2 separate regions of the Homo sapiens genome follow, and region 2 is linked to region 1. Evidence: fine-mapped expression QTL. A gene starts in region 1. The other region holds a variant in brackets. All regions are shown on one strand. Distances are from middle to middle.

Region 1 (9,491 bases):
GGCGTGAACCTGTGAGGTGGAGCTTGCAGTGAGCCAAGATCGTGCTACTGCACTCCAGCCTGGGCGACAGTGCGAGACTCCATCTCAAAAAAGAAATAAAAATAAAAAAAAGAAAGCAAGGTGTTGGGTTGACCAAGCAGATGCTTTGGATTGGTTTGCTTCTTCTAATTATGTTGGATAACTGGGGGAAAGAAAATGATAACTTAGGGCTTTAACTTCTCAGTTCAACATCAGATAAAGGACCAGAAAGCCTTGACTGCTTTGTTTGTTTTTTGAGATGGAGTCTCGCTCTGTTGCCCAGGCTGGAGTGTGATAGTGTGATCTCGGCTCACTGCAACCTCTGCCAGCCTCCTGGCTTCAAGCGATTCTCCTGCCTCAGCCTCCTGAGTAGCTGGTACCACAGCCGCGCGCCACCACGCCCAGCTAATTTTTGTATTTTTAGTAGAGACAGGGTTTCACCGTCTTGGCCAGGCTGGTCTTGAACTCCTGACCTTGTGATCGTCCACCTTGGCCTCCCAAAGTGCTGAGATTACAGGCATGAGCCACCGCACCTGGTCGCCTTGACTGCTTTGCTGTATCTGCAAGACTGTACTTTCTAAAAATCAAACTCAAAATCTAATTCTGAATTACAATGCAAATTGAATTCCCAATCTCATAGTGTTTAAAGTTAGGGCAATGTTTTGAGACCCAAAATTTTGGAATAGTGACACCTGGGCAGATTATGATTCCACTAGGACCATGAACCCCCATATTCTTTTTTTTTTTCTTTTTTGAGACAAGATCTCTAACTGTTGCTTAGGCTGGAGTACAATGGCGCGATCTCGGCTCACTGCTACCTCTGCTTCCCAGGCTCAAGTGATCCTCCCTCCTCAGCCTCTTGCGTAGCTGGGACTGCAGGGGCATGCCACTATGCCTGGCTTTTTTTTTTTTTTTTTTTTAAGAGACAGGGTTTCACCATGTTGTCCAGGCTGGTTTTTAACTCCTGGACTCAAGAGATCCACCTACCTCGGCTTCCCAAAGTTCTGGGATTATAGGCGTGAGCCACCATGCCCAGCCAGAACCCCTAAATTCTGTTGAGCCTCCTTGTCAGTCAAAGAAGCCCTTCCTCTCCTGTCTGAGGAGGTTATGTTCCTCGTCCCTGTGAAATCTGTAATGGCCTCACCTGAGGTGGTTGCCTGGCGGGATCTGCTGATTCTTCTTAAAACCTACTGTCCACTTTGGGAGGCCGAGGCAGGTGGATCACCTGAGGTTGGGAGTTCGAGACCAGACTGACCAACATGGAGAAACCCCATCTCTACTAAAAATACAAAATTAGCCGGGCATGGTGGCGCGTGCCTGTAATCCCAGCTACTCCGGAGGCTGAGGCAGGAGAATTGCTTGAACCCGGGAGGCAGATTTGAATCTCCACAGTGGAGAGTTATGGTCCTTCAGGCAATTTCCCTACTTGTGTCAGGTTGGAGGCCGAGAGCCTCTTGAATGTTAAGGAGGCCAACCCCCTTGTCTTAGTCCATACCTGCTGCAATAACATCACCTAAAGACGGATAAAAGGATTTTGTATCCTCTTTTGGGTAGAATTAGCTTGTTCACAATTGTCCAAGGGACAGCTGCTTCATGTTAGGTAGAAGTCTGATTTTGCTCTTTAGTTTTTGTCTGGAAGTTAAATATGATTACAAGAGGTGTTCATTGATGCCATGTTGACAACCGATAGACTCTGGTACTTTTTTTGTTGCTGTTGTTAATTAGTTTTTATTTCATAATCATAAACTTAACTCTGCAATCTAGCTAGGCATGGAAAGGAACAAGGAAAACATAGAACCCAAAGGGAACTGCAGTGAGAGCACAAAGATTCTAGGATACTGCGAGCAAATGGGGTGGAGGGTGCTCTCCTGAGCTACAGAAGGAATGGTCTGGTGGTTAAGATAAAACACAAGTCAAACTTATTAGAGTTGCCCACAGTCAGCAATGGTGATCTTCTTACTGGTCTTGCCATTCCTGGACCCAAAGCACTCCATGGTCTCCACAATATTCATGCCTTCTTTCACCTTGCTGAAGACCACATGCTTGCCATCCAACCACTCAGTCTTGGCAGCACAGATGAAAAACTGGGAACTGTTTGCGTTGGGTCCAGCATTTGCCATGGACAAGATGCCAGAAACTGTATGCTTCCGGATGAAGTTCTTGTCATCAAATTTCTCCCTGTAGATGGACTTGCCACCAGTGCCATCATGGCATGTGAAGTCTCCACCCTGACACATAAACCCTGGAACAATTCTGTGAAAGCAGGAACCCTTATAGCCAAATCCTTTCTCTCCAGTGCTCAGAGCATGAAAGTTTCCTGCTGTCTTTGGAAACTTGTCTGCAAACAGCTCAAAGGAGATGCGGCCCAAGGGCTCCGTGTCAAAGAACACGGTGGGGTTGACCATGGCTGATAGCACAGGGCTCCTGGCAGCAGCGGTGCCTGCAAAGCCCAGTGGTGTTTTTTTTACCATGTCAACTTAGCTAGGCTAGAACCACATTTCCTAGATTCCTTTCCCTGCATAGTTTTGGGTTAGGGCTAGCTATAAGAGAAATGTGTGCAGTTTGGAAGGCAGAAGTGGAGCAACAGTCATTACATTCTGAAGGTCACCAGCTCCCACATGGGGTAGGAGCTGGGCCTGCAGCTCCTTCAGTTACCACTGTATCTTCTAGATCAACTTCTGTGAGTTCTGGGCCACGAGCATGTGCAGCCCCATGGTGAAGGGTACCAGCTGTTCCAGCTGAAAAAATGTGCAGCAAAGGGTCACGGTATTACCCGGTGCTGGGGGAAGGGAATAGGAAGATTCACTACAGTCATATATTTTTACATAATATTTGACTTTTTCATGACAAAGGATTTTTAAATTAGAAAAGCACCATAAAGTTGAATTAACCAAAAAAGAGAGAGAGAAAGTCCAGACCCTTCAGTGACTACCTCTGTCTACATAAGATCAGACTCCTCAGTCTGGTATGTGAGGCCCTGGACAATCAGGTGCTAGTGTACTTTTTTAACTTTATCTGTCACTACTTCCCTTCCTGTGCCCTCCACTCTGGAATTCTTCCTGGGACTGTAGGACTTTAGTTGGGCCAGAAGGGCTGGGTCTGGGATAGGGTTGCTTAGAGAGTGCCGTGATGCCGCAGCCTCAATGCTAACTTTTGTTTTTTTGTTTTTTTTTTTTTTTGAGACGGAGTCTTGCTCTGTCGCCCAGGCTGGAGTGCAGTGGCATGATCTCGGCTCACTGCAAGCTCTGCCTCCTGGGTTCACGCCATTCTCCTGCCTCAGTCTCCTCAGTAGCTGGGACTACAGGCGCCCGCCACCTCGCCCGGCTAATTTTTTGTATTTTTAGTAGAGACGGGGTTTCACCGTGTTAGCCAGGATGGTCTCGATCTCCTGACCCCGTGATCTGCCCGCCTCGGCCTCCCAAAGTGCTGGGATTACAGGCGTGAGCCACCTCGCCCGGCCAATGCTAACTTTTTTTAGGTAACATCTTCTGTAGACTTTTAGACATTATCTCATTGAGTTCTCATAGACTCTGCAAGGTAAGTATTACTCCCATCCAGAACCAGACACCTGATTTGCAGGGTCCAGTGCAAACTAAAAAAAGCGTGGCCCCTTGTTCATACATGTATTAAGAATTTCAAGCCGGGCATGGTGGCTCAGGCCTGTAATCCCAGCACATTGGGAGGCCGAGGTGGGCGGATCACCTGAGCTCAGGAGTTCGAGACCAGACTGGCCAACGTGACGAAACTCTGTCTCTACTAAAAATAGAAAACTTAGCCGGGCGTGGTTGTGCACGCCTGTAGTCCCAGCTACTCCGGGGGCTGAGACAGGAGAATCGCTTGAACCCGGGAGGCGGAGGTTGCGGTGAGCTGAGATCGCCCCACTGCACTCCAGCCTGGGCGACAGAGCAAGACTCCATCTCAAAAGAAAAAAAAAAAAAATCAAAATGACAGCAGAGCATTAAATGAAGTGTAAGGCCATGTGTGACTGTACCAGTGTGAACCTATGAGGCCAGTCCCACCCCTATCTTACATCTAGGGAACAGGTACACAGAGATGAAGTAAATTCCCAAGGTTACTTTGTCAAGAGCTTGGAAAATATAAGAGTCAGAAGTCTAACAGGTTGAATCCCTATTAAACTCTCCCCAACTAAACTACGCCCCTCCCTGTTGAGCTGAATCTAATGAAAGCTTCCTAAATGTATTAACCACACACACGCACAATCTGCTATCAGTCACTTTCAGTAGTTCATCGCTGTAACATCTCAGGAGTTCAATGTTTCAACGTGTTCTGTAGATTACTGTGATAACGCGGCAAGCTGTCGTAAGACTTCTTGCTGCACATTTCTTTTTAAAATATTCTCCAGGAGTCTGATGAAAAATACAGACATACCTATGTTTAATGTCAATGGATGGAACTTATTTTAAAAAGTACTGTAATGGCAGAAGTTGTGACACAAAGTACTGCAGTGATGTTGTAACTCCAACACCTAAATATATTATCAAGCATTCGCGTTTTGTTTTGTTTTTTAAGTGACTACTAGATACTGTGATTCACTTAAGTGAAGCGAACTGAAGCCCGTGGTCAAGGAGAGACACCTGAAGGTGAAGGGACAAAGCGAGCAGGGTAAGAGCTCGAGCCCGACCCCTCTCAAAAAATATAGACCCGGAACGCGCGCCTGCGCAGAACGAATCCTCCCGCGCACAAGCCGGGCGGAAGAGCTGGGGCGGGCAGGGGCGGGAATAAGGTTGCTAGGAGAACGCGATGACGCTACGGGCTCGGCGCTCTTCTCCACCAATGGGCGACGCGTACTTGCAGTGGCGCGCTGTGTGCGTCACGCCGACGACGCGCGAAGGGCACACATCTTAGGACCCGGAGGACGTCCGGCCTCTGTGAGCCGCAACCTTTCCAAGGGAGTGGTTGTGTGATCGCCATCTTAGGGAGTGAGTGTGGCCGGGCCTTCTCCTGTGGCGGGTGTGGGGAGCGGAGCCCAGAGCTCCTGTGGGGCCGCTGCTTTGGCGGTGGGCCCAGCCGGGAGCAGCCTCTTTCGAAGGCCGCCGTGACCTCTTCAAGGGCGTGGAGACGGGAAGGAAAAGGCCCCGGTTGGGGTTCCAGGGCGCCGGTAACGTTAACCGGCGCCTTGCCTGTCCTCTAACCGTCGCTCCCTCCTCCCCTAGAAAGATGTTCTCGTCCGTGGCGCACCTGGCGCGGGCGAACCCCTTCAACACGCCACATCTGCAGCTGGTGCACGATGGTCTCGGGGACCTCCGCAGCAGCTCCCCAGGGCCCACGGGCCAGCCCCGCCGCCCTCGCAACCTGGCAGCCGCCGCCGTGGAAGGTGAGATCAGACCCTGCCCAATACAGTCGTGTGGTCTACTTGTGGGCCGCCCAGCCTTTGAGGCCTGGACCCGGCTTGGAGGACAGGGAAGGACGAGTCCAGCCCGCTGCACCGTAGGACGGCGCCCAGTTGCTTGCCCTGGGGTATCGGCCTTTTCCACCATAGGCGGGTGTCAGATCCTTGGCCTTCCCTCAAGGGCGTGGAAGCGCTGAGGCCCTGTGTCCCTTCGTGACCTCCGTGTGCCCGAGGGAAGAGAGGCCGTGACTAGCTCTTTCTCCGCCGTGAGCTCGCTTGGTCAGCAAACTAAGTACTGGGTAAACTCTCCTCCCGAAACTACTGACCACCCACAGTTCTACTAACTATATTACCTGTCCTTTGATTTGCCCTTAGTTTTCTTAAAAATAGTCCTTTCCTAAGTTTTATATTTGTCGACGCCAGGTCAGTCATTTTTGCACTTAATTGTATATGAGATAACTAGATGTCCTGTTTTCGTGCGACTGGAGGAGGCAGCTTGCAGCCCTACATAGGCAATAGAAAGGAGATAATTGGTGGGCGTCCCTTTGGTGTGATTATCTCTTGGGATTCTTGGTGGTTGGGCCCAGCTTTAACTTAGTTGTGTGTGTTTTAAATCCTAGTGAAGTATGTACATACAGAGAAACCTGAAAACCGAATTGTAGGAGTCCTAAGAATGTTATCTACCTTGTGCCTGTAAAATCGAAAGATTTTTTTCTTTAAATCATTCATGTGCTTCTGTTGTCTTTAGTATGGATAGAGTCCTTATTTACACTATCTGTCGTTCAGTTTAAAAGTTAAAGCTAACATTATTTGTGTATTAAATGTATTTGACTGCAGGAATTTGTGCGTATCCGTTTTTATGTTACAGGAGTTCTTAAGTGGGGATAGTATTGGTTAGTGGCTGGGATAAACTTTGAAGTTGTTTGCAAGCCTTTTACATGTCGAGTGATCTTTCTGAGTTTCGTTTGTACTCTGAAGTGTGCTCTTACCAGTGGTTAATAATTTGAAGTTTGACTTTAATTGTAAAAGCCGTTAATGTAGAAAACTTTTAAAAAAATTAATATGGCAGAATACGAGCTATTAATAGTATCAGATACAGAACCCTCATAATTTTTAAATGATCTGAATTTGGCAGTGAATTTTTTTTTAAGCCACTTAATTGTGGCCAAAGCTATTCAGCTGTGATAATAGTATCTCACAGGGAAACATTTTCTTTCATTCCAGTGGCCTTAGTCATCTCTGAAGAAATACTTACTTGATTTTTTTTTTTCCAATCAAACAGAGCAGTATAGCTGTGACTATGGATCTGGCAGATTCTTTATCCTTTGTGGACTTGGAGGAATTATTAGCTGTGGCACAACACATACAGCATTGGTTCCTCTAGATCTGGTTAAATGCAGAATGCAGGTTTGTTTTGCATGCTGGACTAGAGCATATTGAAGCATGACTGACTGTTAAGTTATAAGATATAGTCATCTAACAAGCTGTGTGGAAACCTAACTGTCCAGGAGGTAAGTTTATGACCAGTAACATGAGTTTTATATTAAAATGCATGGTGTGTCTTCTCTTACTACAGAGTACAGTTGTGAATTTGGCTCCGCGAAGTATTATGCACTGTGTGGCTTTGGTGGGGTCTTAAGTTGTGGTCTGACACACACTGCTGTGGTTCCCCTGGATTTAGTGAAATGCCGTATGCAGGTTTGTATTGAGATGACAACATTGAAAGTATCTCTCATGTGACTTAACTCTAAATAAAATCTTAAATGAGAATTTGAAGACATCACAACTGCTAGAAACTTCAGTAGGAAACCACATAGAATTTCTTTAAATTGTGGGCTTTATTTTGACTAGTGTTTTAAATCCAATAAATGCCTCTATTGTTTGAGTAAATTGTTCACTTTTAGAGTCTGGCTGTAAATGGCTCTTTGCTGCTGCTCTTCACTTCTGGCCGGAGTTCTTCAAGCTTACTAGTGCCCCAAATAGTCATTTAACAAGCACCTATGTGTTGGAGTGGGTAAACAAGTCTGTGTATTATGTGAAGTAACAATGTCCTTTATCTACTAATAAGACCAAGGCAAAGAGTACATGTAGATTTATTTAAAGTGCTCTTAATATCTTAGTATGAAAATTTTGTCAGATTAGCCTCTTGTTTATTTACACAACATTTTAAAATAATTTGAATATATTTTAATTAAGATCATTGAAACAAAAACAAGACATCGAAAATTTATTTGTTCCAAACTGGATTAGAAGTCTACTTACCTAAAAGAGAAATGAATTTGAAATATTAGGAGGGAGAGGAAGGTGATGTATACCATCCCTTCTAGTACTGGCAGAAATAGATAAGCTTTTCCTCCCCCCCCATTAGTTAATGTAATGGATATGAAATGTACCTTTGCTAAAACGTGTTATGCATGTCTCTTGAAGTGAATTTAGTTTATGTGCTTTTTTTTTTTAACTTGTGTTTAGTTTGTTTAGTGTTCACAAAACTTTATGCTATAAGCTACTTAAAGAACTAGCATATGTTAGGAATACAGTTATATCTATTATCTAGACAGTAGCTTTTAAAAAGTAGGAGGTGGGCCAAGCATGGTCGCCCACACCTGGAATGCCAGCATTTTGGGTAGCCGAAGCAGGTGGGTCACTTGAGGTCAGGAGTTCGAGATCAGAACTCAATCTAGCCAACATGGTGAAACCTCATCTCTGCTAAAAATACAAAAATTAGCTGGGCATGGTGGCGTGCCTGTAGTCGCAGCTACTCGGGAGGCTGAGGCAGGAGAATCGCTTGAACCTGGGAGGTGGAGGTTGCAGTGAGCTGAGATCACACCATGGCACTCCATCCTGGGCTACAGAGCAAGACTCAAAAAACAAACAAACAAAAAACACAAAAAAAGTAGTAGGAGTTGGGTGGTAAGAAATCTGTTAAGAATCAGTTTTGTTACGTATTTTTGTTGAAATTTTACCCTCTTAACTATCACTCCAAGACTTAAGTTTGACACAGAAAGCTTTTGTTGAAATTTTACCCTCTTAACTATCACTCCAAGACTTAGGTTTGACACAGAAAGCTAGACCTTAATGTACAACAGTTTCTATTTATAAAAGTAATCAAATGAACAATAATAAACAGTGATAAGCATAAACTAATAAAAGTTATATGAATGTAGTTCCTCACTCAAAATATCTTAATATTTTCAGATGTCAGTTGACCTTGGATAACTGAAGCCACAGAAAATGAACTCTTGGATAAGGGAGAGCTACTGTATTTCTTTTTTTTTTTTTGAGATGGAGTCTTGCTCTGCTGCCCAGGCTGGAGTGTAGTGGTGCCATCGTGGCTCACTGCAACCTCCACCTCCCTCCCTCAGGCTCAAGCGATTGTTCTGTCTCACCCTCACCCTCCCGAGTAGCTGGGATTACAGGTGCACGCCACCATGCCCGTCCAATTTTTTGTATTTTAGTAGAGATGGGGTTTCACTGTGTTGCCCAGGCTGGTCTTGAACTCCTGAGCTCAGGTAATCCACCTGCCTCAGCCTCCCAAAGTGCTGGGATTACAGATGTGAGCCACCGTGCCTGGCAGGAATTACTGTAGTTACCTTTTGTGTAGTTGCTGAAATTTATTATGGAACCCAAACAAAAATAATCATGAGATTAAATTTTTATGTTAGCTGTTTGGTGCATTTAATTTTTTTTTTCTTGTTTTAAATAAAGGTGGACCCCCAAAAGTACAAGGGCATATTTAACGGATTCTCAGTTACACTTAAAGAGGATGGTGTTCGTGGTTTGGCTAAAGGATGGGCTCCGACTTTCCTTGGCTACTCCATGCAGGGACTCTGCAAGTTTGGCTTTTATGAAGTCTTTAAAGTCTTGTATAGCAATATGCTTGGAGAGGTATGTAATTAACTTTAAAATTGAATGTTCCGAGTGTTTAAGACTTTCCGAGTGTTCTTAGATTTTTGTCTGTCTTGCCTTATTTTAGCACTGAAGAAAATGGTCCTACAAAGTGAGCAACTTGTTTTAAATCGTATGCCTGTGTCAGCAGAGACAGGTTGATAAATGTATTTCATTAAATTACAATTCTCCTTTTAATATACTATCTTGTTTTCTAAGTAAGTTGGATTTTGAGTTT
Region 2 (9,491 bases), 37 kb after region 1:
AGAATATCCAGTTCATTTTGCATCTTTAATATGCTATTATCATACTGAATTCCTTCAAGGGTTTTCTGCATCTCCATTATTTCAGACACTGCTTTCAGCATATCATCTTCCATATTAAACATCTGCATAGTCAAGTCTTCCATTTTCTTTTCTGTTTCTATCAGATCCTGAGAGACTCTGAGAACAGAGTGAATAGCACTTTCAATTGTTGGCAAATGTGTCTTGCATTCTTCAACTTTGGGTTCGTAGTCGGAAAGTTTATTAGTCAGATCTTCATCTCTGGCAAAGAGGGCATGCTGTTCCTCTTCTAACTTTTCAATTGCCTTTGTATCAGAGCCTAGCTGCTCCTCTACTCGCAGGAGATCTTCTTCTTCTTGTCTTTTTACTGTTCTAATATTTCTTAGTGTGCTATCTTCCAAATCTTTTAGCCGTTCAGTGAGCAATTTTATTTCCTGCTCAGCTGAGTTAATTTGGACAGTTACTTGAGAATGTATATGTTTTGCTTCTGATTTGAAAATGTCTGTATTAATGTTCATTTCTTCTAGGCTTCTCTTCCAGAAATCCGTAATATTCTGAAATTTCTCATTAAGGCTTTGCATCCTTTGAGTGAGCACCTCTTCATTATTTTGAATGTCATGCATGATATCTTGGAGGTTGGATACTTCCTGCTCAAACTGGGTCATCAAAGACATGGATGATGTAGCTTCCTGCAGGATGCTTTCAGTAGACTCAAGCTGCATTTATAACACAAAACAATTCCCAAGGCTACTTAATAATTTTCATATTAGAGAAACACACTTTAACAATCAGGAGCATAACACATGCCACGTTAAAATTCTGAAGATGTCTAAAATATCCAAGTATATCAGAATCAGACTGACAAAGATATTTATTACATTAATAGTTTTCACAAATACGTTAACCCTGCATTGTTTTATTTATTTATTTATTTTTTAGACGGAATCTCACCCTGTCACCCAGGATGGAGTGCAGTGGAGCAACCTCAGCTCACTGCAACCTCCGCCTCCCAGGTTCAACGTATTCTCTTGCCTCAGCTTCCTGAGTAGCTGGGATTACAGGTACGCGCCACTATGCCTAGCTAATTTTTGTATTTTTCGTAGAGATGGGGTTTCACCATGCTGGCCAGGCTGGTCTTGAACTGTTGACCTTTAGTGATCCGTCTGCCTCGGCCTCCCAAAGTACTAGAATTACAGGCGAGAGCTGCCGCGCCTGGCCAGCACTATGTTAAAAAAAAAAAAAAATACACCTGAACACACAATCCTAGATATTTCAGCATTTCTATGGAAGCATATACAAGAGAAAAGTAATGTTAAAGTGCCTGAAATAGATGCAATTTCCTCCTTTTAACTCTAATGGTAAGTAACTTTGATGTCAGTTTTCTTTTTCTTTTTTTTTTTTTTTTTGAGACGGAGTCTCGCTCTGTCGCCCAGGCTGGAGTGCAGTGGCGTGATCTCGGCTCACTGCAAGCTCCGCCTCCCAGGTTCAAGCCATTCTCCTGCCTCAGCCTCCTGAGTAGCTGGGACTACAGGCGCCCGCCACCACACCCGGCTAATTTTTTGTATTTTTAGTAGAGACGGGGTTTCACCGTGTCAGCGAGGATGGTCTCGATCCCCTGACCTCGTGATCCGCCCACCTCAGCCTCCCAAAGTGCTGGGATTACAGGCGTGAGCCACCGCGCCCAGCCCTCGATGTCATTTTTATGGTTTTTTGGCTTTTTAGAAACTGCAACTTTGTATACAATTTGATATCTTTCCTAAAATCCTATAATTCTGGAAGGGTTTCTGCCAAAAAATTTTTTTGACCAACCTCTTGCAGAGAAAGTACTAGAATCAGGTCTTACAGATACAAAGGCAACAATGAATTAAAAAACAGTTTAGTGAGACAAGTCAAATTGAATGGTAAAGTGTTTTAAGTATTTGTAAATTATGCTAAGCCTCCGGCACCTCCTAATCTGTATCTGGAATATAGAAGGCCAAGTCATTGACCTCTTTTAGTCTACACTTAGATAACAGCTTTAGAGACTACAGGAAGGCCTAGAAATAATCATTAATTTATTATGTGCTTGCAGCATTATGCTGAAGACATAATACTGAACAAGATACAAAATACTGCCCTTAAGCAGCTTTGTTTAATCGACGAGAAAGACAAGTGTATATGCACTATGACAGGTGAAGAGCTATGGAAGCACTCAGGTGGAGACCCAACCTAGACTTCAGTGATGAAGGAAAGTATTTTAGAAAAAGTAATATCTAATATCTGCTTCCAGTTGCTTGCTCTCTAAATTAGCCTACACACTACTACTAGACTAAGCTTTTAAAAACTGGTATGCCTATCATGGTACACTGTTACAAAACCTTTGATGTTTCCTAATACTTCTAGGATAAAGTCTCAAATTCTCTAACCTCTCCCTATGCTATCCTCCTCTCCTCTTTATTTAGTTACATTGTCCTTACTTCAAGGCTCAGACCGGATCTCAGCTCCTCAGAGCAGCATTTCTTCCATAGCCCTAGCCCTGACAACCTGAATTCCTGTAGCACCTATTACACATATATTTGCCACATATTTGCCTCTTAGCACATACAATTAAAAAATTTTGAGGGTTCACTCTGTGCCAGCCTTGTGTGAGACAGTGGAGACAAATACAGCATAGTCCTTGATTTCACAATTTGATTGGGAGACAGTGTTTAGATCTTCCACATCATATATTCTAGAGTCCCAACAAGATCTACTGAGTACCCTGTGTGAGGTAGTTCCATTATCAGGTACTAGGGAAATGGAGATAAAAGATGCAGTGTATGCTCTAAAGAGGAGTAAAGGAGATAAACTAGCAACCAAAAAAATCACAGTAGATTATAAGTAGCGTCACAAAAGAATTAGCACAGGGGGCAATGGATGCTTTGAGGAGAGATAAAAAGTTAGGAGGGCAATGCGAAAAGGCCTGGAAGTGGCTCCAAAATTGGAATCATTAACAGACTGATTGATGAATTAGCAGGGTGAAGATGTGAAAGCTTCTAAATTTCAAAGGAGAAGAGACCATGTCTTATGCCTCTGTGTAATCCCTACATCTCAGAGTACAAAGAATATGTTTGTTGATGCTTAGGAAGAATGACCCTAAGCCTTCTAGGTCCACCCCAATCAAGACTTAAAGAGTATGCAACAAGAATGACTAACACCACTCTGAAATGTTGTTTAAAATTTATTTTAAGGGTTGGGCATGGTGGCTTACGCCTTAATCCCAACATGTTGGGATGCCAAGGCAGAAGGACTGCTTGAGCCTAGGAGTTTGAGACCAGCCTGGGCACAAAGCAAGACCCTGTCTCTATCAAACAAACAAACAAACAAACAAACAAACAAAATTAGTTGGGCATGGTGGTGTGCGCCTGTAGTCCCAGCTACTTGGGAGGCTGAGGTGGGAGGATTCCTTGAGCCCAAGAGTTCAGGGTTGCAGTGAGCTATGATCATGCCACTGCATTCCATCCTTGGTGACCGGGCAAGACCCTGTCTCAAACATACATACATACACACACACACATTTAAAGAAAACAAACAAAAAAATCCAAAGAAATAAAAACCTCTTTTAAATGTACACATACAGCCATAATACAAGTTCCTTTTAAAATCAATTATGAGAAATACTAACCATTAACATGGTTAGGTTTAGTTGTTTTATTAGCAGTATTTTGAAGAGGCAAGCTTATCCTCACCTAAGGTAATGTCCTGTTTAGGAGGTTCATCAGAGCCTCACTATAATCTGAAAGCAGTATACCCCAAGTAAGTGCAAGATGTTATAGATTTAATCTGCAAATATTTAGTGACTAGTATGCCACAGTAGCTAGCATTTATGGGCCACCAACATATTCTAATCGTTTTTCATTTTTATTTACTAAAAAAATTTTTTTTGTAGAGATGGGGTCTCACCATGTTGCCTGGGCTGGTCTCAAACTGCCAGGCTCAAGTGATGCTCCCAACTTAGCTTCCCAAAGTGCTGAGATTACAGGCATAAGCCACCA[C/T]ACCGGGTCTCATTTTTTCTTAAAGAAAGAGCTAGTAGGGCCAGGTGCGGTGGCTCACACCTGTAATCCCAGCACTTTGGGAGGCTGAGGCGGGTGGACCACCTGAGGTCGGGAGATTGAGACCATCCTGGCTAACACAGTGAAACCCCATGTCTACTAAAAATACAAAAAATTAGCCGGGTATGTTGGCACATGCCTGTAATCCCAGCTACTTGGGAGGCTGAGGCAGGAGAATTGCTTGAACCCAGGAGGCAGAGGTTGCAGTGACCAGATCTCCCCACTGCACTCCAGCCTGGGCAACAAGAGCCTGGGCAAAAAAAAAAAAAAAAAAAAAAAAAAAAAAAAAAAAAGAGCTAGTACTTTATTAGTGCTTGATTGTTTTCAAAGAATTTGTATATAAAGTAAGTCCTCACTTAACGTCATTGGTAGGTTCTTGGAAACTGACTTTAAGTGGAACTATTCAGAGCAGCTCCTCCAACAACGTTGTTTCGATGTCCTTTCATTACAACGTAGATGAGAAAAAAATTGGTTTCATTATACACTTCACTTAAAATCGTAGTTTCCAGGAACCTATTGATGACCAGGAACCTATTGATGACGTTGAGGACTTACTGTATATCTCATCTGATCTTTATAAAAATCTTATTATTTCTCACTTAATAAATGATGAAATAGAGATGAAGATAAGTTATAGTGATTTGTCTAAGGTCACACAGTTGGGATGGGTGTCCATGTCTAGCTGTTTTCCCCTCCATCTGGGTTATGCTGCCCTTTAGGGCCACCTTTGTGAAAAGGGACCTCTTATTAAATTACTCCCAGGGCAGAATGGGAGAAAAAGCTACGAAAAGACTGAATATTTCTTTTTTTTCTTTTCATTTTTTTTTTTGAGACGGAGTTTCGCTCTTGTTGCCCAGGCTGGAGTGCAATGGCATGATCTCGGCTCACCACAACCTCCACCTCCCAGGTTCAAGTAATTCTCCTACCTCAGCCTCCCGAGTAGCTGGGATTACAGGCATGCACCATCATGCCCAGGTAATTTTTTGTACTTTTAGTAGAGATGGGGTTTTTCCATGTTGGTCAGGCTGGTCCTGAACTTCTGACCTCAGGTGATCCACCTGCCTTGGCCTCCCAAAGTGCTGGGATTACAGGTGTGAGCCACCACGCCTGGCCAAGACTGAATATTTTTTGGATTCTATAATGATATTTTAAAAATCTGCTTCAAAAGCTTTTTTTTTGAGATGGAGTCTCACTTTGTTGCCCAGGCTGGAGTGCAGTGGTGCAATCTCGGCTCACTGTGACCTCTGCCTCCCCGGTTTAAGCGATTCTCCTGCCTCAGCCTCCTGAGTAGCTGGGACTACAGACACACGCTACCATGCCCAGCTAATTTTTGTGTTTTTAGTAGAGATGGGGTTTCATCATGTTGGCCAGGCTGGTCTTGAACTCCTGACCTCAGGTGATCCACCCACCTCGGCCCCTCAAAGTGCTGGGATTACAGGTGTGAACCACCGTGCCCAGCCTGGCCAACATGGTGAAACCCCGTCTCTACCAAAAATACAAAAATTAGACGGGTGTGGTGGTACACACCTGTAGTCCCAGCTACTCGGGAGGCTGAGGCAGGAGAATCACTTGAACCCGGGAGGCGGAGGTTGCAGTGAGACAAGATCGAGCCATTGTACTCCAGCCTGGATGAGAAAAGTGAAACTCTGTACCACCCCTGACCTCCCCCACAAAAAAAAAAAGAAAAAAAAAAAGGAGAAATCTTGTTCAAAATAAGTTTTCAATAGCTTTTATTTATATTTATTTATTTATTGAGATGGAGTCTCACTCTGTTGCCCAGGCTGGAGCACAATGGCGTGATCTCAGCTCACTGCAATCTCCACCTCCCAGGTTCAAGTGATTCTCCTGCCTCAGCCTCCCGAGTAGCTGGGATTACAGGCGCCCGCCACCACGCCCAGCTAATTTTTGTATTTTTAGTAGAGATGGGGTTTCACCATGTTGGCCAGGCTGATCTCAAACTCCTGACCTCGTGATCTGCCTGCTTCGGCCTCCCAGTGTGCTGGGATTACAGGCGTGAGCCACCGCGTCCGGCCTTCAATAGCTTTTAATTAAATATGTGAAGTTTTGGCAAGGCACAGTGGCTCACACTTGTAATATCAATTCTTTGGGAGGCAGAGGCAGAAAGGTCATTTGAGGCCAGGAGTTTGATACCAGCCTGGGCAATGTAGCAAGACCCCGTCTCTCCAAAAAATTAAAGAAAAAAAAATTAGCTGGGTGCAGTGGCGTGCCTGTTAGTCCCAGTTACTTGGGAGGCTGAGTTGGGAGGAGTGCTTGAGCCTGGGAGGTTGAGCTGTTATTCCAACACTGCACTCCAGCCTGGATGACAGAGTGAGAGCTGGGATGACAGGGAGAGACTCTATCTGAAAAAAAAAAAAAAAAAAAAAAAAAAAAAATATATATATATATATATATATATATATATATATATGAAGTTTCTTGCCCCTGGGATTTCTTCTAATGGTATGTTAGAGTTCCCCCAACAGCTACAACCAGATTCCAATTTTTTTTTTTTTTTTTTTGGGACAGAGTCTCACTCTGTTGCCCAGGCTGGAGTGCAGTGGTATGATCTCAGCTCACTTCTGAAACCTCTGCCTCCCAGGTTCAAGCAATTCTCATACATCAGCCTCCCAAGTAGCTGGGATTACAGGCATGAACCACCATGCTCAGCTAATATTTTTGTATTTTTAGTAGAGACAGGGTTTCGCCATGTTGGCCAATCTGGTCTCGAACTCCTGACCTCAAGGTGATCCGCCTGCCTTGGCCTCCCAAAGTGCTGGGATTACAGGCATGAGCCACTACGCCTGGCTCAGATTCCAATTTGAGCCCTATGTGAAAATACCAACTCCTTTGCAGCTCCTTCCCCAAATCCCTTACACTCACCATCCATGGAATCCCCTGGCATTTGTGAGGGATACTTAATTTTCCTCCATGGCTTTTCTCTTCTGGAGGATTATATGCTCATCCTGTGCATGGGGCTGCAGGGACTTAGATGCTCCATTTCATCTCTATTTTTACAACATCCTTACCCACCCTGGTGCCAAGCATAGGTCCTTGCTTACCTTGTGACATGAGCAAAGGTTTAGTGAATGAATAAATGAACAAAAAGCCATATTTCCCAATGATAGCTTGGTCCCTGGTACCCAGAATAGGCCTACATGATGCCTTATTGATCACAGCTGACTTTGACTTTCTCCTGAGAGGTGTGGGAGTTACAAAAATGTTTATTTGTCTCACATTTCTAAGAATCACAGTAATAACGCATCTGGTAGAAATCAGCAACTTGAAGGAACACAATATAGACATGGTATTATTTTAATTTTCATTGGAATTCTTATTTGGCTACAGGACAAATAGTTACTTTTAGGCTAGCCGTTCTTTTTTTTTTAATTCTTTTTTTTTTTTTTTTTTTTTTTTGAGACGGATCCTCGCTCTATAGCCCAGGCTACAGTGCAGTGGTGTGATCTTGGCTCACTGCAACCTCCACCTCCCAGGTTCAAGAGATTCTTCTGTCTCAGCCCCCCGAGTAGCTGGGATTACAGGCGTGTGCACCACGCCCAGCTAATTTTTGTATTTTTACTAGAGATGGGGTTTCACCATGTTGGCCAGGCTGGTCTCCTAACTCCTGACCTCAAGTGATTTGCCTGGCTCAGCCTCCCACAGTGCTGGGATTAAAGGCATGAGCCACTACTCCCAGCCTAGGCTAGCCATTCTTAAATGCATGTACATATATCCTTAAAAAGCAAAAAGTAAGGGAAAAAATGGATAGATCTTTTCCCAATAAGTGCTATTCATATTCTAATTTTATGTCCAAAGATCAACCATATTTTCAGATGAGATCGAGCGCATTCAGGGTGGTATGGCTGTAGACATGATCAACCATATTTTCAATGCTCTAGATACCTGACACTTAAGTAGAAAATTAACATCATGCTAATATGAACAAATTGGTCTTTTTCAATACTAGAAATTATCATATTAAAAAATCCTTGCCCCTCAAAATGCAATCTGAGTCAAAATGGCTCAGAGGGAGAATGTCAAGAGGTAGGAAGATCAGTGAGAGTTAAAATAGTGATGGTCTAAAAGGCAGGAAGAAAGAAGTTCTGAGCTGGGATAGAGAAATGATAGTGGGGTAGTAAAATGGGAAAACCGTCCCAGATAAGCCAATTAATGATTACCTTTTCTGAAATTAAACTGATTTTACTTTGAAGTTGTTGGAATTCATTGGTTTCTAGTTTCAGTAACTGGTATTGGTTTTCCACCTTTGCAAATTTTTCTGACTGCTGAAATACAAACCTGGAAAAGAAAAGAAAAATCACTATTCTCCAATTCATATCCATTTAAATCCGAATTTCAAAGGAGAATTATACCCACTTCTGTTAAGAACAACATAAATTCTGGTATGGGTAGCTGTAGGTTTTTTTTTTTTTTTTTTCACACAGGGTCTCACTCTGTCACCCAGGCTGGAATGCAGTGTCACAATCATAGCTCACTGCAGCCTTGAACTCCTGGGCTCAAGTGATCCTCTTACTTCAACCTCCCAAATAGCTAGGACTGTCCATCTCGCTATGTTGCCAAAGGTGGTCTTTAGCCTTTTTTTTTTTTTTTTTGAGATGGAGTCTCACTCTGTCGCCCAGGCTGGAGTGCAGTGGCGCGATCTAGGCTCACTGCAAGCTCCGCCTCCTGGGTTCACGCTATTCTCCTGCCTCAGCCTCCCGAGTAGCTACGACTACAGGCGCCTGCCACCACGCCTGGCTAATTTTTTGTATTTTTAGTAAAGACGGGGTTTCACTGTGTTAGCCAGGATGCTCTCGATCTCCTGACCTTGTGATCCACCTGCCTTGGCCTCCCAAAGTGCTGGGATTACAGGCGTGAGCCACCACGCCCGGTATTTTTTTTTTTTTTTAGATGGAGTTTTGCTCTTGTTGCCCAGGCTGGAGTGCAATGGCACGATCTCGGTTCACTGCAACCTTTGCCTCCTGGGTTCAAGCGATTCTCCTCCTCAGCCTCCCAAGTAGCTGGGATTAAAGGCACCTGCCACCACGCCCCACCAATTTTTTAATATTTTTAGTAGAGATGGGGTTTCACCATGTTGGCTAGGCTGGTTTTGAACTCCTGACCAGTGATCTGCCCGCCTTGGCCTCCCAAAGTGCTAGGATTACAGGCATGAGCCACTGTGCCCAGCCCCAAGGTGGTCTTGAATTCCTGGCCTCAAGTGATCCTCCCCTCAGCCTCCCAAAGCGCTGGGATTACAAGTGTGGGTCAACATGTCCAGCCTAGATGCAGCTTTTATCAGTTTCTTTTGACAGATTTTCATGTGGTAGGTACTGGTTTAACTCATGCAAAGATGAGTAAAGCACTGCCCTTGTTCACAATTCACAGCCCACCAAATAAGATGGTGTGATA

What was found. PIP is the estimated chance that this variant, and not a neighbour inherited with it, causes the effect.
Region 2: its variant is fine-mapped to the expression of SLC25A3 in whole blood (TOPMed, PIP above 0.99).

The regions. Positions count from the first base shown.
Region 1 is chr12:98,588,783-98,598,273 of GRCh38, forward strand. SLC25A3 (solute carrier family 25 member 3) reads left to right here and starts at 4,904. Exons shown (of 8, transcript NM_002635.4): 1 at 4,904-4,958; 2 at 5,193-5,353; 3 at 6,945-7,066; 4 at 9,074-9,253. The coding sequence starts at 5,197. It also overlaps the pseudogene PPIAP8. RefSeq lists enhancers at 4,426-4,645, 4,694-5,318, 4,896-4,995, 5,319-5,943, 6,692-6,921.
Region 2 is chr12:98,626,033-98,635,523 of GRCh38, forward strand. IKBIP (IKBKB interacting protein) reads right to left here. Exons shown (of 3, transcript NM_153687.4): 2 at 8,264-8,381; 3 at 1-734. Among named protein-coding and RNA genes, the nearest start is that of IKBIP, 14 kb to the right of the region's middle. The variant C/T (reference allele first, on the strand shown) is at 4,032.